Linked DNA regions of Homo sapiens. The protein of the gene in region 5 purifies or fractionates together with the protein of the main gene of each other region. This does not show direct contact. Each region holds a gene or a part of one and is shown on either strand. Other genes may lie near its edges.

Region 1 (4,097 bases), about 130 Mb from region 5:
AGAAAGCTCAAAAAAATCTAACTGGTCTTCTGGCTTCCTCTGTCTGCTTCCAACCCATTCTCCACAAAAAAAGTAAAGGTTCTCTTAAAACAGAAATTGGATTATATTGCTCCCCTGCCTAAAACTGTTCTATGGCTATCCACTTCAAACAAGCATCAACATCACCTAGAAACTTCTCAGGAATGCAAAATCCCACCCTGCCCCAGACCACTGAATCTAAAACTCTAGGGATGGGGCCCAGCACCTCTGTTTTAAGAAGTCATCCAGGTGATTCTGACGCAAGCTAAAGTTTGAGAACCATTGTGTTAAGCTAACTGCTTTCTATGTATGATGTTATTTAAACCTGGCAATTCTTATGTATTGTTGCCAGCAGAGTGCAGTGGTTAAGAGCAGAATCTGGAGCTAGGCTGAGTTTCAATTCCACCTCTCCTAGCTTTGTGATATTAGGTCTTATTTCTTTATCTGCGACAGGGATAGTAATAGCGCCTATAGCCAGCACGGTGGCTCACTGCCCATAATCCCAGCACTTTGGGAGGCCAAGGCGGGCGGATCACTTGAGGTCAGAAGTTCAAGACCAGCCTGGCCAACATGGTGAAACCCCGTCTCTACTAAAAATATAAAAATTAGCTGGGTGTGGTGGCGCACGACCGTAGTCCCAGCTACTCAGGAGGCTGAGGCAGGAGAATCGCTTGAACCCAGAAGGCGGAGGTTGCAGCGAGCCGAGATGGTGCCACTGCACTCCAGCCTGGGCGACAGAGCGAGACTCCGTCTCAATTAAAAAAAAAACAATAATAATGATAATAGCGCCTACCTCATGGGGTTGTTGTGGAATTAAACATCATCAGTAAGGTGCTTAGAACAGTGACAGAACCTGGATTTTAATCTCCCTTGGCCTCCAATAGCTGTGCATGCCCCAGGACTAGGTAACGGCCTTGCCCAGGACGGGTATGGGGCGGGTGGTGTGTGCCCTGTGTCCAAGGGTTGCAGCCCCTCTGACCCTGGCGTGCCCTGTGATCTGGTCCAAGGTGCTAGGCCTCTGACTGGAGTCGGGCTTGCCATCGGCGGTGCTGGGGAGCGGGCTGCTCTCGTGCAGGCAGCCCCACCAGCCAGCCGGGCTGCGAAGCTGCCTAGCACGGTCTGAGCATTCGCCTTACTCGCTGGCTGCTTACACCCCGACGCCGCTGCCGCCACCGCCGCCGCCGCCGCCGCCGCCCTAAGCACCGCCCGTCGCCCTCTCACCCCGCGGCAGCGGCGGCGGCGGCGGCGGCGGAAGCGGGGGGGCGGGCCAGGCCGGGGCGGGGCCGCAAGCGGCATGGAGGAGGCGGAGGCCGCGGCGAGCCGGGCCGAGCAGTGAGGGCCCTAGCGGGGCCCGAGCGGGGCCCGGGGCCCCTAAGCCGTGAGTGCCTCCGCGTGGGTGTCCGGAACGGGTAGCGCTGCCGGTGCAGGTCTCCTGAGCCCTCGGGCGGCTCCGGGCCCTGGGAGGAGGAGAGAAGCTGGGGCAGATAGGATGGGACGAGGGTTGAAGACTGGGGCAGGAGAGGTCGCTCTTTGCTCACCACAGGCTTGGGAAGGCCTGGAACTTGGTCCTTGTAGGGGCTAACGAACTTTGAGCCGATTATTTGGCCTCCACCCTTGGACAGCCTTGATTCAGAGAGTTACTCCAGTCTCAGGGAATTTCCAGGTGATCCAACCCCACTGAAGGGTTTCCTGCCAGCCCAGAGAAGTTGAGCCACTTTCCCCATGTCACACAGTATGGGTGCTTGCAGGGAAGAGTTGCTGGGAGGTCCTCCCTCATCTCCCCAGAAGGCATCAGACTTTGGGAGGAGCATCTTACCCCATGTGGCCCTCTGGTCCCTTCAGATTCCTGAAGTCATGGGCTGGCCAGGACATTGGTGACCCGCCAATCCGGTATGGACGACTGGAAGCCCAGCCCCCTCATCAAGCCCTTTGGGGCTCGGAAGAAGCGGAGCTGGTACCTTACCTGGAAGTATAAACTGACAAACCAGCGGGCCCTGCGGAGATTCTGTCAGGTATAGAGATGTCCCAAACCCTCCCCACCGAGCGCTCCCTCCCAGCTTCCTCCCCACCTAAATCAGGCACTGGGACCCCTGTTGGCCAGCCCCAGTGGGAAAGGGGCAGCAGGTTCCTAGAGGGGAGACCTCTATGTGTCATGTCCCTATAGGTAATGATTTGAACCCAAAGTTCTGGAATCGGAACCCAAGTACAACTTCTAAGCTTCTGACGGAAGCCTGAAGTCTGATCAGGCTGGCTTTGCAGAGAGGCACACCCCTGTGAGGCAGTTAGGGCCAGGACCCAGGTCTGATCCCCCGCTTGGGTCCCTGGGCCTGGCTCCATCTCTAGAAACCAACAATGGAGGGGACCAAGGAAATCAAGGTCTCAAATAGAAGAATACAGGAGCACTGGGTAGGGAGGGCCCTAATGGAGGGGGAAGTGTCAGGGGAGGTTCCCTGGGGAAAGTGGCTGTGAAACTAGGCCCTGGTCAGGGGAGTAGAGCTAGGCAGACAGAGGAAGGGACAGGACCCAGTTTCTCTGGATGTCTTCACTGCAGCCAGGGCCCTCCTTTCAGAAAGACCCTCTAGGATCTGAAGGAGGTGCTCCTCTTAATCATCCCTACCCCTCCCCTCAGACAGGGGCCGTGCTTTTCCTGCTGGTGACTGTCATTGTCAATATCAAGTTGATCCTGGACACTCGGCGAGCCATCAGTGAAGCCAATGAAGACCCAGAGCCAGAGCAAGACTATGGTAGGGCTAGGCTAAGGATGGGGTAGGGGGCCTTGGATCTCACAGCTGGAGTGGCAGGCAGACCCTAAGCGGTGAGACTCTGCTGAGGAGACTATCTCCATGACCTGTTGTACCCCACAGATGAGGCCCTAGGCCGCCTGGAGCCCCCACGGCGCAGAGGCAGTGGTCCCCGGCGGGTCCTGGACGTAGAGGTGTATTCAAGTCGCAGCAAAGTATATGTGGCAGTGGATGGCACCACGGTCAGTGGGCCAGGGTCTGGTGTACAGTCACTCTATTCTGCTCAGGGCATGGTCCACTGGCAGCAGGGTCTACTGCCTAAGTGGGAACTGCAACTCTGCCAGTTTCTAGCTGTGTGACTTTGGAGTCCTCGATTCCTTATCTATAGACTGGGACTAATGATTTCTACTTGTCAGGATTCAATGAAAAGTTTGTGAAGTGTCTTGTATGTAGTGGGATCTCAAAAGTAATCATTCATAATAGTAGGCAGTCAATTCATTGATTTATTTTATAACCATCCCCTGGTCCTTTCTTTGGCCTCAGCCTTGTGCTGGGCACTGGGGACCTGAAAGTAATCAGACCTGGCCCTACCTTGAGGGGTTCAGTGTGGTGGAGGATTGTGATACTTCCAGGATGAAGCAGAGACAGCAGAGGCTCTAAGAGCCATGAAAGTCATGGAGGGGAGGGTTGTAGAAAGACGTGATCTCTTCTGATGGGAGTGCTATAGAGGCTTTCTGGAAGAGGTGGCCTTCGAGCTGAGTTGGAAAAGAACTGTGTGAACAGAAACATAGGCAGGAGGTGATGTTTCAAGCAGCTGGTGTTTTAAGTACCCCTAAGACAGAGACACCTTGAATGCCAGAGTGAAAAGCTGGACTTTGTCTCTGCCACTGTGTAGGTGCTGGAGGATGAGGCCCGGGAGCAGGGCCGGGGCATCCATGTCATTGTCCTCAACCAGGCCACGGTGAGTTTCTAGGGGTGGGTGACCCAGAGGGCTGGAGCTGGGCTCTTGCTGATGACACCAACTCACCAGAAGTATATCCCCTGCCAGGGCCACGTGATGGCAAAACGTGTGTTTGACACGTACTCACCTCATGAGGATGAGGCCATGGTGCTATTCCTCAACATGGTAGCGCCCGGCCGAGTGCTCATCTGCACTGTCAAGGTCAGTTATTCTGTCCTGACCCTGACCCCTACTCCCTAGCTCCAACCCTGCTTCTAGCCCCGGCTTCTCTGCCCCTCATATAACATAGTGGGAAGATTCTCTGAAGGAAGGTTACTCAGGTTCCAATCTCAGCCTTAACATTTGTATTAATTCAGCAAATAGTTATTGAGCAACAG
Region 2 (2,400 bases), about 70 Mb from region 5:
AGTTGTAGCATTTTCTTTTTTATATTTTTATAAACGTCTTTAAAATAGAAATCAGGACAGTTTAGCTATTTTTTTGTTTGTTTAGCTATTATTTTAAGTGAAAGGGATGCCCTAAAGGTAGCAGGCAGGCAGACAGATTTGCTTTAATTAGGAGTTCCCACCCTTATGAGTAATTTTTTTTCTCTATTCAGTTGTTTTTTTTTTAATCTTGAGCTTAAAAAATCCTCAGAGTTACAAAACCAAAATTTTGAAAAGTCAGAATTTGGAGAAAGGAGTCCACTGACCATATAAAGAGAGTAATAGCCACCTAAAAATGACTCGATTGGTGTGTAGGTAAATAATTCTTTTACCAGAAATGTGTGTGACTGAAATTTGATCAGGGATCTCAAAGATATGCTGGTAAATTGTATAGCAATGTAATTATTTTAATCAGGTATTTGAGTATTTCTTAAGATACAGTTTATTCCCAGAGAGTTTGCTTTAACATGCATTTTTTAAATCATTTGTTCTAGAGTTCTGTATCCCATATATGCACTTTTGGTTTGTAGCAGTAACTGTTCAGTAAAAATTAAGGACTATGTTACAAACCATATATGTCTTATGCTTACACTAGTATGCAAGAAGTGAGTAGGTGCTTTTAAAATCAGAATTCTTTGGTCAGTTATTGGTGTGTGGTGGTGTTTTTACTGACTTTTTCAGAGAGGTGTAGCAGGTACAGTTCTAATCGTGCATATTTCGAAACTAAGTGTTCTTCATCAAAGATGAGTTTTTGTTTTTGTATCAATTCAAATTTCTGGTTTCAATAATAGAAAGAAGAGTTGTCTGCAGGCTCATAGTCATCTTTTATTTCAGTGGGCATTTAAATCAGCCATATTTGGATTGCAGAATTTCTTAAAAAGTCATCATAAAATGCCTTTGACATGCTCTTTTAAAATTTTGCTTGTCTTTTTATTTTCATATTTAAACAGTAGTGACATTACATTATTGAAAATGTTTTGAACATCTTGGAAATTTTATGTTCAATATTCTCACTGCTGTCCAGCTACGGAATTGAAATGTCAGTGTAGGAAAACCTTTTTTAATTGTTTTATTTTCCCAGACACCCGGAATTAATACAGGATCATTTAACTTAGCCTCACAGTTTTTTTTTTTTCAAAGGTGAGATGATATCAACCTCTGGTTCTCAACAAGGACTTTTGCTGCTTAACAGTAATGGATTTTTTTTTTTTAATCTATCCCCTCTGTCCCACCCCTAATTTGTCAGGTCATTAGTAAGTATATTTTTCTCCCTTGATTTAAGTGCTGAAGACTTCAGCTAAGGCCCTTGATATTTAATTATGATTAGAGACTTTTGGACCTTCTGGATCATGGTCATGTTTCTGTTCTATGAAAGTGACTTAACTTGAAGCCTGGCAGAACCCAACTGTTTTCTTTCTGTTATCAAAGCTGGTAGTTTTGAAATAGCACCAATAATAACCCAGGGAAATGTCATGTAATTTTTATTTTCCATTATGACAGGTGTCTAATGCATGTCAGCACAAAAGTGTCATCACTGCTGTGTCATCCCTCTTGGTTTTCACTATGCATCTATAATTTTTTAAGTTTGCAGGTTTTGTGGGGGTTTTTGTTTGTTTGTTTTTAAACTGGAAAAACTAGCCATTTTGAGAGAAGGAAGGTTCTAGGCTATGAGCATGAAGGTCCTTGTGCCTCTTGGGAAAATACCTGAAATCCTATAATGAAGACTTTTGATGCTTCTTGCTTTCAAAAAGCTGTGGTTGGTTTGGAGTAGACACCTGTTCAGAAACTAATGCAAGTGTGGAGTCTACATACGTGGGCTCATAGTATAATTTGTGGCCAGCTACATTTTTCCAGTTTAAATAAACTCACTAACCATTAATTTTTGAATATCTTTTGTTGAGATAGTTGGACAAATGATTTTGCTCTTTTGGAGAGTGAAGTCCATGACATCTAATTTTACTGTCATCCAAAATGTGTGTTTTATTTCTTTTCTTTTACTTTCTTTTTTTTTGTTTGTTTTTTGTTTTTTGTTAGTGTGACAGCGTACAGAAGAGTACTGTGTTTTTGCTCCATGTTTGTTTGAATCTTTACCTGACATTGCCGCTTTTGTTAGGTCTGGGCAATTTGTGCTTCAGTGTTTTTGAAACAATGGCTTGATACCATTTCTAAATGTATGTATTATAAAAAACTAATTATGTTTAGTTGGTCATTACCTACAGAGTGCCATAGTCCACATGAACCTCATATTTGTACTGCCCATTCTTTTGTGCAGGTTCATAATATCCATAAAGTATCTAGTTAAACCTTAAGAATTCAAATGAAAGCAAAAGTCTAAAACCGGTTCTACTTCTCATTAGCCAGGATTTAATAATCCCAACGTTG
Region 3 (3,500 bases), on a different chromosome or scaffold from region 5:
TGAGATTCCTGTGGTGTTTTTTCATGGAATTAAAAATTAATAATTTCAATAAAATTAACTGCTGAAAGAACCCAATTAGCCAAAATGAAAAGCATAACACATTTTTTCAGGAGCGATTTTGAGGTGTCTTTTAGAATAAATTGTACTCTGCTTTTGATGTGATTTGCTACATCTTTTTGTTGCAGTTCCTTGAGGCTCAGCCCCTGGCCATATACTTGCTTCACTTTTCCTGCTTTCTTCCATCCACTGTCTTGGGGCTGTTATTTCCAAATCTCATCACTGTGTTCAAGACTTATTTACTATTTCTGGACAGTTCCATTTGGGTACACAGGTACATCATACTAAACTAACATGAACTCATTTTTCAGCTACACCATACAACCTTCCCTTACTACCAAAAATGACAGCCCATTTGTCGGCATTCTTCTGAATCCATATTCCTCCTTCTTAATTCTCTGTGCATGATACCTCTGGTTGTTTAAGTCAGAAACCTGGAATGTATCTTAGCTTCTTATTTCTCTTCCTTCCTTACCTGTTTTGTTAAATCAGAGTTCTTTTGTGTTTACCTTCTTAATGCCTCATAAATCAGTCCCACTTTTCTTTCACTACTGTGTCTTAATTCATGCCTTCATTTACTTTTTATTTTATTTTTTGGGATAGGGCCTCACTGTGTTCCCCAGGCTGGAGTGCAGTGGCATGATCATAGCTCACTGCAGCCTCAAACTTCTAAGCTCAAGCAATCCTCCTATCTCAGCTTTTTGAGTAGCTGCAACACCAGGCACATGCCACCATGGCCGGCTAATTAAAAAAAATTTTTATGTGGAGATGGCATCTTGCTATTTTGCTCAGCCTTGTCTTGAACTCCTGGCCTCAAGCGACCCTCCTGCCTCAACTTCCCAAAGTGTTGGGACTACAGGCGGGACCTACTGTGCCTGGCCACCTTCATTACTATTGGCAACAATTAGTCATAACCCCTTAACAGGATTGCTTGTCCTCAGTTGTACATCTGAGTGATTTTTCTAAAAGATTGGACCATATGATTTTTCTGTTTAAATGCCCAGTGACACTCATTACTTTTAGGAAAATGTCAAACTCCCTACTCCGAAGGCCTGCAAGCTCTGGCCCTTGCCTGGCCCTCTAGCCTTGCCCCTGCTTCTCTCCCTTACTGGTCTTTGTGTTCTAGCCAACCTGTAGGTGTTACACTGGCCCAAATTTGTCTTGCTGCTTTTTGCCTCTGTACCTTTGTGTGTGCCACTCCTGTCTTCAGTGCGATGGTTGGTCCTTGTGAGATTCTGATGAAATGGTTGGCCATTTTATTCTTATGTCACAATCCTGGGACACAAACAGTGATTTTATGCAATTGTTATGTATTTGATGCACTTGGAATATTGGGGGTAGCTACATTTTGGAGTTTTGAGAACGAATTCAAATAAGTTACAAATTATGTTTAAAGTGGTAGACAGAGAACCTGATTTCAACCTATTCTAATAAAGCATTCCGTGAAAGCCATTTTAAAGATGATCCATATTTGTTAAAGTGGTAATTTTTATATTCTCTGATATGGTTTGGCTGTGTTCCCACCCAAATCTCATCTTGAATTGTAGCTCCCATAATCCACACTTGTCATGGGAGGGAGGTAATTACCTGGTGGGAGGTAATTGAATCATGGGGGCAGGTTTTCCTGTGCTGTTCTTGTGATAGTTAATAAGTCTCATGAGATCTGATGGTTTATAAAGGGCAGTTCCCCTGCACACTTTCTGTTGCCTGTTGCCATGTAAGACATGCCTTTGCTCCTCTTTCACCTTCCACCATGATTGTGAGGCCTCCCTAGCCATGTGGAACTGTGAGTCCATTAAACCTCTTTTTCTTTATAAATTACCCAGCCTCAGATATTTCTTCATAACACTATGAAAATGGAGTAATACATTCCATTACCATAAAGAAAAGGCTTTCATGTACATTATTTTTTAGAGTAGCCTTGTGGTATGTCATTACCTCCATGGATAGATAAGAAAGTTGCAACTTGCACAGTATTAGGATTGATATCAGTATTTACTTTTATTAAGTTGAACTTAAGAGCAGCTTTTTGGCTGGAAAAAAGTTGTACTTATGTCAAAGTTGTCCTGAAAGTAGAATCCTACTCCTGTCCCCAGCCTGAAACTATTTACTACATATTTACTTGCATGTTCTTTAGAATATTCTCTCAATAGTGTCTCCTACTCAAGTCATCAGAAATGCTGTGATGTCATTTTTGGAAAAGAATTCCAGAGTTATCACCGCCTAGCTAGAAATCTGGTCTTATATTCAAATTAAACAAGCAAACCTTAACAAAAACAAGCTAAACCCTAAACATAACATGAACAGTCAGCTCACCACAGTTCTGAGCACCTGCCTTGGCCTGGTGCCACCCACGCAGGGACTGTGGATGTTTTTATTGGCAGAGATTCAGAACAGGAAACTCCAGCACACCTGGGAACTGCGCAGACCCACCACATAAGACAGATAGCCTATCAGTGGCTGGAGGAATGGAGGAAAGCAGTGCTTTCAAATGTACATGCCAAATGTGTATGATCATACCTCTTTGTTAAAGTGCCTTCTTTAACAGCAAAAGTAATTCCTCACCTTGCATATAGGAACTAAAAAAAAGTCGATGAAGAAATGGCTTGCCTTATTTTCAAGTAAGAAGTCTTTTTTCATTTCACTAATTTTTAATTATGGGCATAAGTATGAAATACAGATTAGAAATACTGAATGTGGACCAAAGCAATGTTTCCTTTGTGGACCAAAGCAGTGAATCTTTTTTCTTTCTTTCTTTCTTTTCTTTTTTTTGTTAAGAGACAGGGTCTTGCTCTCTTGCTCAGACTGGAGTGCAGTCAGTGATGTGATGGCTCACCATAACCTCAACCTCTTGGGCTCAAGGGATCCTCCTGCCCCAACCTCCTGAACAGCTGGGATTACAGGCACATACCACCACACCTGGCTAATTTTTAAAAATTTTTTTGTGGGGGAGGGTCTCTCTATATTGCCCAAGCTGGTTTCAAATGCCTGAGCTCAAGTGATCCTCCAACCTCAGGCTCCCAGAGTGTTGGGATTACAGGTTTGAGCCACTGTGCCTGGCCCCAAAACAGTGTTTGTAACTCCCTTTGTCCCCTCTTGATAAACATAAAAGTCTCATGGTACTTCAGAATTTTGTTGCACACATCCAAGTGTAGTTTGCCTTTCCTTGTGAGTGGCAGAAGACAATGTCATACTCTGTATTTATCCATCAGCCAAAATTTTGTCAAGCTTTACTTTTATTTTTTAAATTTTTATTTGTATTTTTTTTTGGAGACAGAGTCTTGCTCTGTCGCCCAGGCTGGAGTGCAGTGGCGTGATCTCGGCTCACTGCAACCTCCGATGCCTGGGTTCAAGCGATTTTCGTGTCCCAGCCTCCAGAGCAGCTGGGACTACAGGCACGCACCACCATGCCTGGCTAATTTTTTTGTATTTTTAGTAGAGGT
Region 4 (3,500 bases), on a different chromosome or scaffold from region 5:
TTCAGGACGTGACTGCCCCGGACGCTGGAGTGCCTATTTCTAGGATCTGGTGTCATGAATGCAGAGGAGACATTCTCAAAGAGAAAGACTTTCTCAGAGCATCCAAGGTGGCAACGCAGGGTGAAAGCATTTCTACTCGGGCTTCCTGTTTCTGAGGCTGCACAAGCCATCGTCAGGTGGCTTGGGAGGGAGGACCAAAGTCCCCATGTGATGGGAGAACCCAAGACTTCCAGAAGCCCAAACTCCCAAGAGCTCAACATCCCTTTGCTTTAGAGAAACCACAAATGATACAGAGGAACAAAAGCCAAAGTAAACTGCCTCCTGAATTCCTTCTGTTGCTGTTTTTGTTAGTTTTTTTCTTTTAAACATTTTGTAATGGAATATTCTGAACACACAGAAAAGCAGACAATTGCACAATGAGCTCCATGTTCCATCTTACATCTTCAGCAGTAATCAACAGTCAATCTAGTATCGTCGTATTTCAGCTCTCTTTGCCCCCTTTCTCCTTCGAATTAAAAAAAAAATTTTACTGACTAGAGAAAGCCTATGAATTCTGAAATATATTTTGATATTATTGTGAAAAAATTGTACAGCTTAAAAATAGTATTATCATTTGAGATCTCATCTGGTTTTATCCTATTTTAATATGGATTAGAGGATACAAAGATGGTGATCACCCCTCCCTTCTTTGGCGAAGTCAAGCATCATTTCTTTTCTAAATTCTTACCTCATCTTCCCTTATGGAAATGCCCTCCTCCACCCATGCATGCAGGTGTGTCGGTTTTTAAATTTGTGTCCTAATAAGACTTGATAAAAACGCTTTCCACACACCCCTTGAGCAGCTTGAACATTTTGGTTGATTTTGCCTTATTTTCCCATATTAAAAAATTGTCTAGAAATGGGTGAGACTGTCTCAAAAACAAACAAACAAAAAAAACAAATATTTTTCTACCGATCAGTTCTGCAGGCTTGTTGGGTCTCTTGTTGATGAACGTCTCAAAGGACTCCTTCATCAGGTTGACGAACCGCTCATTCTTCTGGAAGCAGACCTCGATCACGTGGTCCACCTTGTCCTTGAAGTCCAACAGGTCTTGGACCATGTCTTTGTCTTTCTCAGGATTGATTACGATCGCTGTTCCAAAAGTCTACAAAAGCAAATCAATACCAACTCAGCAACATGTTTACAATAGCAAACAGTATCTTCTCCTGCTATCATATAATCAGGATAGTTTAACATAAATTACTCTTAGTAGTAAATACTCAATAACTTTAAAAGTTTCACAAATTGAATTCACATTTCAAAAATTAAGTGAATACACTTTTTTTTGAGGCAGGCCCTCACTCTGCGGCCGAGGCTGGAGTGCGGTGGTGCAATCACGGTTCACTGCAGCCTCAACCTCCCAAGCTCAAGCAATCCTCCCACCTCAGCCTCCTGAGTAGCTGGTGCTACAGGCTCAGGCCACCACATCTGGCCCATCTTTTTAAAGTTTTGTAGAGACGGGGTCATGTTGCCCAGGCTGGTCTCGAACTCCTGGCCTCAAGCAATCCTCCCACTGTGATTTCCCAAAGTGCTGGGTTTACAGGCATGAGCCCCTGTGCTTGGTGTGAATATACAATTAAATACACAATTAATGCATTGGTCTTACGATTCTGTTTCTGAGAGAACTTACAAACGACTGGAAAATGTCCGTTGCTTTTTAAAGAATGTTTATGTGTAAGTTCCTCCAAGACAAGTTAATTCCTATTAATTCAATATACCTCTTGGGACTTCTTGGCTAGTTTTCCTTCTCCATCACTTCTAACCATGAAAAGCTCACTTTTTTAGTTTGTACTTTTTTTTTTTTGTTTTGAGATGGACTCTCGCTTTGTCACCAGGCTGGAGTGCAGTGGCGTGATCTCGGCTCACTGCAACCTCCGCCTCCCATGTAGCTGGGACTACAGGTGCACACCACCACGCCCAGCTAGAGACGGGGTTTCACCATGTTGGCCAGGATGGTCTTGATCTCTTGACTTCATGATCTGCCTGCCTTGGCCTCCCAAAGTGGTGGGATTACAAGCGTGAGCCACTGTGCCTAGCCTAGTTTGTATTTTTAATTTAAAACTGTTATATTAAACATTCCTAAAAGTCTGTGTAGGGCACTAATAAACAGTTAACATTTGATGATATAAACTATATATGCCGAAGAGGAACTGAATACAATGATTGGATTTAAAAAATTCGTCTCAATAGAATGCACATGTGCACTCACACATCACACACACACGCGAGGTAGCTGGCTGGTGGAAAGATGCCAAGAGAAGGCTGGGCGCAGTGGCTCACGCTTGTAATCCCAGCACTTTGGGAGGCTAAGGCGGGTGGATCACAAGGTCTGGAGTTCCAAGACCAGCTTGGACAATATGGTGAAACCCCATCTCTACTAAAAATACAAAAATTGGCCAGGTGTGGTGGCGGGAGCCTGTAATCCCAGCTACTCAGGAGGCTGAGGCAGGGAACTGCTTGAACCCAGGAGGCAGAGGTTGCAGTGAGCTGAGATCACGCCACTACACTCCAGCCTGGATGACAGAGTGAGACTCCACCTCAAAAAAAAAAAAAAAAAAAAAGATGCCAACAGAAAGGGCACAGACTCTCCCAGAGAGGGGCGGTGTGTGGCTAGCAGGTGTGGGAGGGACTTACCTCTTACTCTACACCCTTTGGTGCTAACTGCATTTTGAAATAATGCACATACACTACAAGGCCCAGCTTTATTTTGATAACGGCATGTGGAGTTGAATATAAACTACTATTTTGTTACAGTATAACTACTTATTGCTGACACTCAGGGGTGATGGTCACTCACTGATTTTTATTACCCAGACTGGAAACTGCAAAGGTGAACTTTTCCTAGTTTTTAGCACACATTCCCATCCCCTGAAGACTGTCTCACTGGCAAAAAACCTAAATCTTCAGTAGCTTTATGGCCAATTTAGTGTGACTCAGTTATAAGTTCCAATTCTATCATTGTACGAGACCTTGTGGGGAGGGGTGCTGTGAGTGCTGGCTTTCCACAGCTGGACTGATACATGACTTCAGGTCTGATTATTCCATAAAGCAGCATGTAAGCTTTATCTTTTTTATTTAACGGAAATCTTTATTCAGATAATGACAGATTTGCATAATAGTAAAAATAGCAAAGCAATCCCAGTGTCTTTATTTCCACAGTTTCCTCCAATGGCAACGGTTTGCGAAACTACACAACAGTGTCTCAGCTGGGGTACTGACATGGCAGCGCACCCGTCTTTTTCACATGGCCCAGTTTACTCGTAACTCATCTGGGTGTGCACATCTAGACCTCGGCCGAAACCCCGACTGTTCCCGCAGAAGGCTACCTCCTGGGGCCTTTTATAACCACACACCCTGCCCCATCCCTACACCCTGGTAACTTTTCATCTATCCTCCATTTCTAAATTTTGTCATTTCCAAAATGTTATGCAATAACACGTTAAGTATCTGTGATTGGCTT
Region 5 (3,500 bases):
ACATGCTTGTTCCTCTTAACATATAGGCAGAAAAAACCACGTATAGAGAAACTAACTGTCTTACTCAAAGTCCTATAAAACTGAAACATGACTGAGTTAAGGATACTGTCCCATTAATGCTCATTTTTAAATATACCCATCTCTTGATTTATGTAACATTTAGTTTCCCAAAAAGTAAAAGATTTTAAAAATTGTAAGTCGAAATATTCTCATAAGAAATAAAAAACCAGAAGCGAATTTTTTAAAAGTCATGCCCCTTTTTGTCATATCACATTAATATAAACAGTTAATAAAAACATGCTTAGAAATGCAGTTTATGTGTAGGAAGCAACTTAATATAGTGGAATGAGCTAGCCTAGATGAGAAACCTCATTCTAAAATCAACTCAGTCATGGCTTGGTGTGAGCTTGGGCAAGGCCCAAAGGCCTTACTCCTATGAAAGATGACAAAAGTTCTCTGGAAAGAAGGCCTCTGACTTCTGCTGTGTTCTCAGTTAACAGAGCAGTACAAAACAGGAGAGTAGTTCAGGGGGTTCTCTTACCTGGGGCCAGCAGTCGCCTCCTCAGTGTATCCTCACCCTCTTGCCCTGCACTGGAATGACCAGGACTCTGGGCCTCCTGGGAGTCTGTAGTAGGTGGTTCCTGAGATGCTCCAGTTCCGTCACTCGCTTCCTTAGGGAGGGCCACAGAGCTGCTCCCTAAGTGTGCATCTGCTCTTCCTACCTTGTCACTTGGAGAATGGCTGGGATCTGGATCCAAGGGTTCTTTACCCAGATTTTCTGAAGGGAGGTGATGCCCTTTTCCGCCATCCAGAAAACTCTGCTTGTTCTCATCTTCTGTTTTATCCTTTGGATGTTTCCCCACATTTGCTTCATCTGGACTTTCTGATTTATCACCTGTATCTGCACTTTCTGGACCTTCTGTCTCTACCTCTTGGTGGTCTTTGCTAAGACCACAGGCAGAGTGTAGGATCTCAGCTTCTTCAGCATTACTTGCTATGATTGTGGTCTCCTGCGCCTGAGAATTTACTGATGGATCATTTTCCAAATCCTTTTGAGAGTCTATTGAGATAAAAGTTTATAATTTTTATTGGAAAAAATTCCCCATAAATTTATATTTTAACAAGGTCCCTGTTTAATAATAATATTTACATAGATTTTCATGGTTTACAAGACACTTCCTAAACATTATTTCTCTTGGCTCCCACTAAAGGCAATTAAAACAACAACAAAAAAAATCTTATCATGTTAATAAATATAAAATGACACTAATATAAAACAAATTATATGACAGAACAAACTTTTGGCTATATTAAATATATCCTCTTCCCTAATGAAAGGCAATGCTCATCAATGGTAGCAAAACCTTATGCAAAAGGCTGATAGGGACTTTTATAGTGGATGAGCCAGACTGACAACTGCTGAACCCAGCGACCAATCTTCACATCATGAAAACAGGGAAACCCAAACAGATATCATTTACTTTCTAATACAATGCAGTAAGAAGTACTCTAGACCACTTGGGAAGTATTTTTGCCAAACAACTAAACTTAAATCTGGTAAGTTTCTAGAGCAACCAGTTTCCAAGAAATATAGGGATACAGGAATACATTAAATTATGCCTCAAGAATATAATCAGCAAAACCCAGCACGTGGGAAATTCCAAAAGACTTTGTTTCTTTAATAAAAGTAAGAATGGCCAGATGTGGTGGCTCATGCATGTAATCCCAGCACTTTGGGAGGCCAAGGCAGGTGAATCACCTGAGGTCAGGAGTTCAAGACCAGCCTGGCAACATGGTGAAACCCCGTCTCTACTAAAAATACAAAAATTCACTGGGTGTGGTGGCAGGCGCCTGTAATCTCAGCTATTCTGGAGGCTGAAGCATGAGAATCACTCGAGCCCGGGAGGCGGAGGTTGCAGTGAGCTGAGATCACGCCACTGCACTCCAGCCTGGGTAACATAAAAAAAAAAAAAAGGAGAAGAAGAGGAAGAAGAAAGATACCTTCTAAATATAGCACATCACAGGATATATATAACTCTAAAGATTTGTCTACCATCATTTTTTAAAGAAGCATTGTATTTTTCCATTACTATAAGTCCTTACTATTGGAGTCTCTAAAACATTTATCTTCCTTATATTATAATTAGGGTCTCGCATTATAGTAAAATTCAGTAAATTTGAAAGAATAAGTATAATCAAAACAAATGAACCCACTGAATTAGCTTTTTTACTTCAAAACCTCAGATTTTAGTCATCAGAGATTTTCTCTCTCTGCACACCCCTGGTTTCCTACAGCAGCAACCTCAGTGCCAGACAAATCAGTCTTACCCTCTTGAGGTTCCCTAAGTCCACTGTCGGCCATGTTTGTGTTCTATCTCTTCAGAGTTGGGAGGATACTTTTTTTAGTACTTGGTTTTCCTTGTGAAGATGTCTTGTTTTCTTCTTGTCCCAAGTCCCAACAGACTCATGCTTCCCATGGACCCAGGAAATAAGGCATATATACAGTGACTAAAACAAAATGAAAAAAAATTAAATGACTTTTTATCCATACAAGGGAGAAATGCAAGTATCAGCTTTATTTATTAAATATGTGTAGCTTGAGTACTATTTCCTCTGTGAAACTTTTTTCGTGAAGAAAATTTCCTTTCATGAGAATCATATTCCAAATCCTAGACTACTGAAAAAAGCTCCAGATTATTAATCTTTCATGAATTTCATAATCTAATATATTCCAGCATAGTTGAAAGAGTATAAAAAGTAAGATCAAGTGACCAGAATCTTCAACAGACTAGCTTGAATTAAAATAAAAAATAAATCTAAGAGTAGAAATTTAAGTCATTGCTGAAACAATCACTGCAGATTTCCTGGATGTCTTCAATTTCTGTCCCAGATAATTTTCTCATAGTCTGCCTATCAGGAGCTTTCACTTATATTAAAAAGTAACAATGCACAGGAGGTTCCCACAAACTGAGATGGCTGCTTTGAGGTGTACCACTACACATTTGGACTGACTTTGAAGTGGTTTTCTCGAAGTATTCTTTTGTAAAATATGGAGACAGATATTCCTTTATACAATGCCTTTTTATGCAATGCTCAAAGACAGACAAAGAAAATTATTAAGGTTTACACAAAAGGAATCAAAATCAAAGGCACTTTATAAGCAATAAAAACAGTCATATTTTATAGTTCTTTTTTTTGTCAAAAACAAATTGATCAATAAAGTTACTTAATATTTATTCCCTATGAAAATGAGAATAATGATATCTATGAGGCTTAAATACAAAAATATATAAGAAAAACCTGTGTGAAGTGTTATAGTTTTTTGACAGCCTAGCTGGAAGGCTAGCCAACTGGCCGTCTTTATGTTTTTCTCAGTACTCTTTTGTAAAATTTAAATTTACACATTAAAAACTTTGATCCCCAATGCCTACACGGTGCCTAGTGTATAGTAAGAACTCCATATTTTAACTTAAAAGCTTATGAAAAAATAAATGAATGTA
Region 6 (3,500 bases), on a different chromosome or scaffold from region 5:
TCATAGCATCTCTGGAAGTTGATGGTAGAAGAATCCGATTTACTGGGTCAGCTGAAGGTAATGGCTTAGCTGTTGTAATTCTTACGGTGATGCTGGTAGGCAGTGACTTGCATTCTCTGATGTTTCCTGAGAGCACTGGTTGCCTATACCCAGACTTCCAGAGTCAACTCATTTGTTCTTATCCAAGTGAGCAAACTATACCTAATGCCACAAATCTACGATAATACAAAGATTTGGGAGTGTACTTTTTTCTGGCATATATATATAATTATGTTGCTATTGAATAAATAATGCCAAATACACACCAGTCATCCTGCTATGCGGAACTAAGTATGCCTCTTTGAAATGCCAAATGCCTGTATCTTTTGTAGCTTGGGCTCAAATTGATGAAATTAGAAATTACTGTATACATGTAATTCCTCAGGACAGTGAGGAGCTCCTGCCTTGCTTTACTGAATTGTAAATTGAAATTCTTTCCTCAGATCATTAAAGACTTTTACCTTCTGGGACGTGGAGAACTGTTTCAGGCCTTCATTGACACAGCTCAACACATGTTGAAAACACCACCCACTGCAGTAACTGAGCATGGTAATTGTCAGTGGCCCTGAGAATGATCAACTGATTGACATTGCAGGGTATTTCTTGGCTGCTGCTGACCCTTTTAAGGCCTGCTCCACATAAGAGCAGCCTGATGAGTTACAGAGCAGTGGCTTCCAGAGATGGAAGGCTCTTGCAGGTAGGCTTCATGCTGGGGTCATTGGGAACAGTGTCTTGGCCTGTGACCCTTCCTGGAAGAGTTGGTTCAGGCCTTCAAACCAGGTATTTTTTCTCATTGGATTATAGCCATATATACTTTATGGGCCATATTGGGACTTAGTGCTGCTTGTAGTTTTGCAGTAGAATTCTTTAGGTGTGAATGATGGAAACTCACCCGAACTAGCCTAGTTAGGAAAGGGAAATGGATTTGCTATTGTATCTAAAACCCCAGTGGGAAAACTTCGATTCATTCTCTCTCTCTCTCATTCACTCATTCACCACATCTTGTTTGTGTCTCTTGTGAACACTTTGATGACCTTCTGGAAACATGATCACAGCATCTCCCAGGAATATGCCTCACAGTGTCCTCTACGGAAGGAACTGAACCCAGTCCCTCTTGTTGCAAGTTAGAGAATTCTAGGGAATTATCTAGGTTTTGATTGGCCCAGCCCACATCACATCCCTATCCCTGTATCAGTCAAAGAGGTCAGACACTAGGCTATGCCTAGTTCAGTGAAGAGTCTACCCCTTGACCCACTGATGTCCATTCCCATTCATACTGCATGAGTAGAGTTGGGTAAGGATCCAAAAAAAGAAACTGTGAGAAAGAAAATACATACACACAGGCTGATCATTTTTCTAACTCAGTAAAACCATAGATGTCCACTGTACTTATATAGTACAAATATAAGTACTTGTGGTTGCAAATATCAGAAAATCCAATTCAAACTCACTTAAGCAAAGCAAAAGGAAAGAAATAATGTATTGATTCTCATAACTGAAAAGCTCAGACGTATGATGGTTTTCGGCTAAGTTTGATCCAGTGACAGGTGTGGCACCTTTAGGACTTGGTCTCTTTCCATCTTCTACCTCTTTCTTCTCAGACAGGCCTGCTCTGTATGGTAGCAAGATAGTCTCTAGCCAAGTTTACATCCTACTAAGCCCCTGTTTATCTTGAAAAAAGAGCTGGACTCTTTTAGAGTCTGAATAGAGCCTCTGGATTGGCCTGGCTTGGTCATGTTAATATCCCTAAACAATATAGCATAACAAAGTAGAGTATTACATTCCATTTGATCATGCCTACATCACCCAGCTACCCCTAGAATCAGGTGTTGTCTAGCACTAACCCACTGGAAATATGTGAACTGTACTGAATAGGGATGATTCTCCAAGGAAAATCAAGAGGCAGTTTGTCAGCAAGAAGAGAAGGATGGATGGGTGTTAGACAAATGAAACAGATGTCCACTGTGTCCTGCTGTTAGCATTGAGCATGTTGGGGGAGAAGTGGAAAGCTGGAGGAGTCTGGGTTTGTTATGTAGCCAAGCGTCCCTGTCAGCCTGCGTGTTCTTTCTTGCAGATGTGAATGTGGCCTTTCAACAGTCAGCACACAAGGTATTGCTAGATGATGACAACCTTCTCCCTCTGTTGCACTTGACAATCGAGTATCACGGAAAGGAGCACAAAGGTTTGCCATTCCTCCCTGCCACCTTAGAGTTCCTGCTGGTCATCATCCATTTTCCCATCTCTGCTTCCATCCCCCGCCACAGAAACCATATGATTTTGGATCTTAGAAATCAGCTAGTACAGTACTATAATTCTATAGAGAAGAAAAGGAAAGTCCAGAAGTCCAGAGAGGCTAAGTGAGATGCCCAGGCCATGTTTTGGGGGAGTTGGTTTTTTTGGTGTTTTTTTTTGTCATGCTGCTGGAATGGTGCCTGTTTATTTCCAGCCCCCAGATTTTAAGGCTGAGGAAAGAATCTCTAGAAGACCTCCCAAGAGAACCTCACATAGAAGTTTCCTTGCCCCCTTCTTAGTGTCCCCTGTAAGCTTCTGACATCGCAGACTCCATTGAGCTCTGTTGCTTTTCTTTTGGAGACAGAGTCTCACTCTGTTGACCAGGCTGGAGTGCAGTGGCACAATCTTGGCTCACTACAACCTCTGCCTTCCAGGTTCAAACAATTCTCATGCCTCAGCCCCCCTGAGTAGCTGGGACTACAAGTGCGTGCCACCATGCCCAGCTAATTTATGTATTTTTAGTAGAGATGGGGTTTCACTGTATTGCCCAGACTGGTCTTGAACTCCTGTGAGCTCTAGTTTCATTAATGTTATTCACTTGTTGAGTCTCTGGTTCTAGATTAACCAAGTTGTTATCTTTTCTTTTTTTCTTTTCTTTTATCACAGCAGATGCTACTCAGGCAAGAGAAGGGCCTTCTCGGGAAACTTCTCCCCGGGAAGCCCCTGCATCTGGCTGGGCAGCCCTAGGTCTTTCCTACAAAGTACAGTGGCCACTACATATTCTCTTCACCCCAGCTGTCCTGGAAAAGTGAGTATTTCTGAGTTTCTCACAGGTAAATATGACCCACCTTACTTGTAAGGGAAGAAACTAGCAGGAACAGAATTAGTGGGAAAGCAAGGTGTGGTGGCACACACCTGTAATCCCAGCTAGTCCAGAGCCTGAGCAGGAGGATCCCTTAAGCCCAGGATTTCAAATCCATCCTGGGCAACATAGTAAGACCCCCATCTCATAAAAAAAAAAAAAAAAATTAATGGGAGCAAGAGAGCCACCCAACTAGTTTTTAACAATCTGTAAATCAAAAATTGTAAACCCTTATGCCTTCAGGGGCTAGACTGATCACATTAATAAGTGAAGCCACAGATATGAGACACGGAGTTGGAATCAGTGGGAGGGCATATCTACTTCAAACCATCATTTTTTTAAATTGCCAAATAATAAGCAGTTTGTT
Region 7 (3,500 bases), on a different chromosome or scaffold from region 5:
GAGATAGAGTCTTACTGTATTGCCCAGGTTTGTCTAGAACTCCTCCTCAAGTGATCCTCCTGCCTCACCCTCTCAAAGTGCTGGGATTACAGGCATGAGCCCCTGTGCCTGGCCTTCTTTTACTTAAAAGAAAAATCGTTATAGCCATCCTAGTAGGTATGAAGTGGTATGTCCTTGTGGTTTTGATTTGCATTTCTCTAGTGACTAATGATGTTTAGCATCTTTTCGTGTGCTTATTGGCCATTTGTGTATCTTTTTTGAAGGAAATATCTTCAGGTCTTTTGGCCATTTTAAAATTGGATTGTTTGCCTTTTTTGTTGTAAGAGTTATTTATATATTCTTGACACTAGTCCCTTATCAGATATATGAGCGGCAAATGTTTTTTTCCTTTGTGTATGTTGACTCTTCACTTTCTGAGTGGTGTCTTTTGAGTCATAAAAGTTTTTAATTGTGATGAAGTCCAGTTGATCTTTTTTTTTTCTTTTGTCTTTTGTGCTTTGGGTGTCATATCAATTATTTTATTTTTAGTATAGCAAGTGAATTGGAAATTTGTATATGTTCCATTATTAGTCATTGATTTGAAAGAGTGACGTCTGTACTTCAGACTTGTATTTTTCTGTTACTTTTCAACTCCTGACCTATTTTGTTCACTCTAAGACATCACTCCCTTTGTATTTCCTTGGTGCCTAATGTCACTTGTGTTTCGTAGGGTGTGGTTCCAACTGCTCAGCGTGCTGCCATCGTTGTAGGAGTAGAGCTACCAGTCTATGATATTACTAAGAAGCATTTAATATTGTCAGGAATGATGGGCGATACAATTTTAACTCACTTCGTGTAAGTAGGATGGGATGTGCTCATTTTATTTCCAGCATTTTGAGCACAAAAAGCCTCTTTTACTGAAATCCTCAGGTGGAATTTGATAACTGGTACGTATGGCCTAAATTCCCTTGTCTCTCCTATTATCAGAACTTCAAGCCTTATGAACACTTTATACTTCACAGAAATGCCAGGTGCTATGGGGGCTTGGGTACTTGGGAACATTGTCTAATACAGCAGCCTATCAGAGGTCTATTTGATTTACATTTATCCATACATAGCTTCTATATCTAATAAGCACATCTATTATTTGCTTTGGTTAATTTTGTTTGAGAAAGCAAACTTTTCTCAGTGGGAATCAGAAAAAAAGGGGTAAATAAGGTCTGTGAAACTAAAGCACAGTTTTTTGGCTAAAGACTGTTACTGATCTCATTTTACATTTTCTTTGTCTTGCAACCTTTATGATAATTTTGTTACTCAAATGCATTTGGCATGTGATGCTGTGGTTTGAAAAATTTATGTAACTAATACATGGTGCATGATACTTTCTACTTAGGAATCTTGTTAGGTTTAGAAACTCTCCTTTAAAAAAAAGGCTGAGTTTCAGATTGAAAATTGAAGGGACAGCCTTTGAATGATGTCTCTTTAGAAAAATTTCCTGTCTCTTTAGATTGTAACGAAAGGCCAAGTGCCAGGTTTTATCTGATGGGTCTGAGTTATATTGTACAGTTTACGTTTGGCCTAATTTCTGTTTAAGTGGGCAGGGAGTGAAAGTGGGGTCGATCTACTTAAACTTTTCCTCTTAGTTCCAGCTTTACATGTGGTTTGGCTGGGGCTCTGGCCTCCAACCCGGTTGATGTGGTTCGAACTCGCATGATGAACCAGAGGGCAATCGTGGGACATGTGGATCTCTATAAGGGCACTGTTGATGGTATTTTAAAGGTAAGTACATTGTGGATTTGGGTTACAATTTGGCTTTCTTTGATGTCTTAGACCTTCCTTCAGTTCTTATTATTAGTTGCTACATACCATTTTGAAGATGAAAGAATCATATTTTTTTAGTAGCTTCTCAGTTATTCCCAGGTAGAAAAGCTGTCTCCTTAGCAATCTGCTAATTTGCAGTGGTACTTAATATAATGATTCCCATTTGAATGCTTTAAAATACAGGATGCTTTTATTAATAGTATCATGTAGAATTATTGATAGAAAAGACAATATATCCCCCATTTGCCTACTTCATACAACACAGAGACCCTGCAATAGAAAACTCAATACTTAAGGAAAAAAGCCTGTATTTTATTTCAGTTCACGGTTATGCTGTTGTTCACTTTGGCTTTGAAAGTTCCTGCTGTTGTGTTTGTGGGAACTGAATATTCTAAAAGTATTACATCATTACTGGTGATATTATTGCTACTGAAAACAAATTGAGGCTAAAATATGATGTTGCCATATGGTTTCTCTCCTGTTATCAGTTTTGTTTAACAACTATTACATATTAGACACCATTTTAGTAGTTAGAGAGAAATTACAGTTATTACAAAAGTACTATAGGTATACAAACGGATCATCAGTACAGCCTGATAAGTGATAAACTCAAGAGTTCTCAATTTGGAAGCATTGAGGTAGGCTCCCTGTAGATGGTGGCATCTTGAATAACAATAACTCATATCCACTGAGTGCTTTTTTGTGTGTCAGCAACTGTCCTTATGAGACTTATGTGTATTCGTTCATTGAATCCTCACCATTACTCCACGAGGTAGACACTGAAGCACTGAAAGATTAAGTAAGCTGCCTAAGGTTTCACAGCTACTAAGTGGGAGAACTGGAATTTAAACTCAGATCACTTGACCTCAAACTGACATTTACCTCTCCACTATGGTGCTTTCCTCATATTGGTGGCCAAGGGTTAGATTATAAAGGATACTGAATGCTATATTGAGGTGCTTGGACTTTTTTTTAACTTGTCAGGGAGCTGTTGAAAGTTTTTAATCAGATTAGCTTTGCATTTTAAATAGATTACTTTGGCTTTATGGAGACTGGATCTACCACAGTGGTTCCTCATCTTGGGTACACATTGGAATCACTTGGGAGAACTTTCGCAGCTCCCTCCTCTACCTTAGACCAATTAACTCAGAACCTGGGGAGTAAGGTCCAGGTGTCAATATTTTAAACTATATCAGGTGACTGCAATGTTCACCTAAGGTTGAAGACTACTAAGGGGATAAGCCTGGAGCCATGGTTCTTCAAAGTTTAACATGCATCAGAATTACCTGGAGGGCTTGTTAAACTGCAGTTCACTTGGAGCCATCTCCAGATTCTGATTTAGTAAGTATGGAGTGGGACCTGGAAATTTGCATTTTTAATAAATTCCCAGGCAATACTGATGTTGCTAGTCTGGAGACCACACTTGGAGAACCACTGACCTACAGATAGGGAAGCTGATTAGAAGGCTCTTGTAATCTGAGAAAGAGGGGATGAAGGCCTGAACTTGAGCATGATAATGGAGATATAGAAGGTGGGACAGAGTCAAGAAAGAATTAGTTGATAGAGTCAGCAGGATTTGATTGACTGGATGTGGAGGGGTGTGGGAGAAAAGAGGTGTCAAAGATAAGTTCTGGGTTTTTGGAGTTGGTGACCAGGTGGTGACATTCATTGACAGAGGCATCACAAGAGGAGCACGTCTT

Evidence for each region.
Region 1: the proteins of TOR1AIP2 (region 5) and POMGNT1 purify together in Homo sapiens (co-immunoprecipitation; 3 studies listed by BioGRID and IntAct, with this or other methods). This does not show direct contact.
Region 2: the proteins of TOR1AIP2 (region 5) and RBM15 purify together in Homo sapiens (affinity purification with mass spectrometry; 2 studies listed by BioGRID and IntAct, with this or other methods). This does not show direct contact.
Region 3: the proteins of TOR1AIP2 (region 5) and SLC16A10 purify together in Homo sapiens (affinity purification with mass spectrometry; 2 studies listed by BioGRID and IntAct, with this or other methods). This does not show direct contact.
Region 4: the proteins of TOR1AIP2 (region 5) and CUL4A purify together in Homo sapiens (affinity purification with mass spectrometry; 4 studies listed by BioGRID, with this or other methods). This does not show direct contact.
Region 6: the proteins of TOR1AIP2 (region 5) and TUBGCP4 purify together in Homo sapiens (affinity purification with mass spectrometry; 2 studies listed by BioGRID and IntAct, with this or other methods). This does not show direct contact.
Region 7: the proteins of TOR1AIP2 (region 5) and SLC25A14 purify together in Homo sapiens (affinity purification with mass spectrometry; 2 studies listed by BioGRID and IntAct, with this or other methods). This does not show direct contact.

What each region holds. Positions count from the first base shown.
Region 1 is NC_000001.11:46,195,635-46,199,731, reverse strand, and holds the start of POMGNT1 (protein O-linked-mannose beta-1,2-N-acetylglucosaminyltransferase 1), read left to right. Parts: upstream 1-1,297; 5' UTR 1,298-1,396; exon of another isoform or gene 1,397-1,681; intron 1,682-1,860; 5' UTR 1,861-1,910; coding exon 1,911-2,030; intron 2,031-2,182; exon of another isoform or gene 2,183-2,370; coding exon of another isoform or gene 2,371-2,424; intron 2,425-2,647; coding exon 2,648-2,762; intron 2,763-2,882; coding exon 2,883-3,001; intron 3,002-3,242; exon of another isoform or gene 3,243-3,431; coding exon of another isoform or gene 3,432-3,530; intron 3,531-3,654; coding exon 3,655-3,720; intron 3,721-3,807; coding exon 3,808-3,921; intron 3,922-4,097. Other genes in the region: TSPAN1 (tetraspanin-1), read right to left, coding at 3,432-3,530. UniProt on the Homo sapiens protein: Participates in O-mannosyl glycosylation by catalyzing the addition of N-acetylglucosamine to O-linked mannose on glycoproteins.
Region 2 is NC_000001.11:110,342,377-110,344,776, forward strand, and holds part of RBM15 (RNA-binding protein 15), read left to right. Parts: intron 1-2,400. UniProt on the Homo sapiens protein: RNA-binding protein that acts as a key regulator of N6-methyladenosine (m6A) methylation of RNAs, thereby regulating different processes, such as hematopoietic cell homeostasis, alternative splicing of mRNAs and X chromosome inactivation mediated by Xist RNA.
Region 3 is NC_000006.12:111,094,003-111,097,502, forward strand, and holds part of SLC16A10 (monocarboxylate transporter 10), read left to right. Parts: intron 1-3,500. UniProt on the Homo sapiens protein: Sodium- and proton-independent thyroid hormones and aromatic acids transporter.
Region 4 is NC_000013.11:113,240,613-113,244,112, reverse strand, and holds part of CUL4A (cullin-4A), read right to left. Parts: intron 1,146-3,500; coding exon 953-1,145; intron 1-952. UniProt on the Homo sapiens protein: Core component of multiple cullin-RING-based E3 ubiquitin-protein ligase complexes which mediate the ubiquitination of target proteins. As a scaffold protein may contribute to catalysis through positioning of the substrate and the ubiquitin-conjugating enzyme.
Region 5 is NC_000001.11:179,850,304-179,853,803, forward strand, and holds part of TOR1AIP2 (torsin-1A-interacting protein 2), read right to left. Parts: intron 2,509-3,500; 5' UTR 2,363-2,508; coding exon 2,329-2,362; intron 1,061-2,328; coding exon 542-1,060; intron 1-541. UniProt on the Homo sapiens protein: Required for endoplasmic reticulum integrity. Regulates the distribution of TOR1A between the endoplasmic reticulum and the nuclear envelope as well as induces TOR1A, TOR1B and TOR3A ATPase activity.
Region 6 is NC_000015.10:43,395,101-43,398,600, forward strand, and holds part of TUBGCP4 (gamma-tubulin complex component 4), read left to right. Parts: intron 1-6; coding exon 7-57; intron 58-482; coding exon 483-588; intron 589-2,113; coding exon 2,114-2,221; intron 2,222-2,937; coding exon of another isoform or gene 2,938-2,940; coding exon 2,941-3,079; intron 3,080-3,500. UniProt on the Homo sapiens protein: Component of the gamma-tubulin ring complex (gTuRC) which mediates microtubule nucleation.
Region 7 is NC_000023.11:130,363,919-130,367,418, forward strand, and holds part of SLC25A14 (brain mitochondrial carrier protein 1 isoform 1 precursor), read left to right. Parts: intron 1-709; coding exon 710-834; exon of another isoform or gene 835-1,622; coding exon 1,623-1,758; intron 1,759-3,500. UniProt on the Homo sapiens protein: Transports inorganic anions (sulfate, sulfite, thiosulfate and phosphate) and, to a lesser extent, a variety of dicarboxylates (e.g. malonate, malate and citramalate) and, even more so, aspartate and glutamate and tricarboxylates.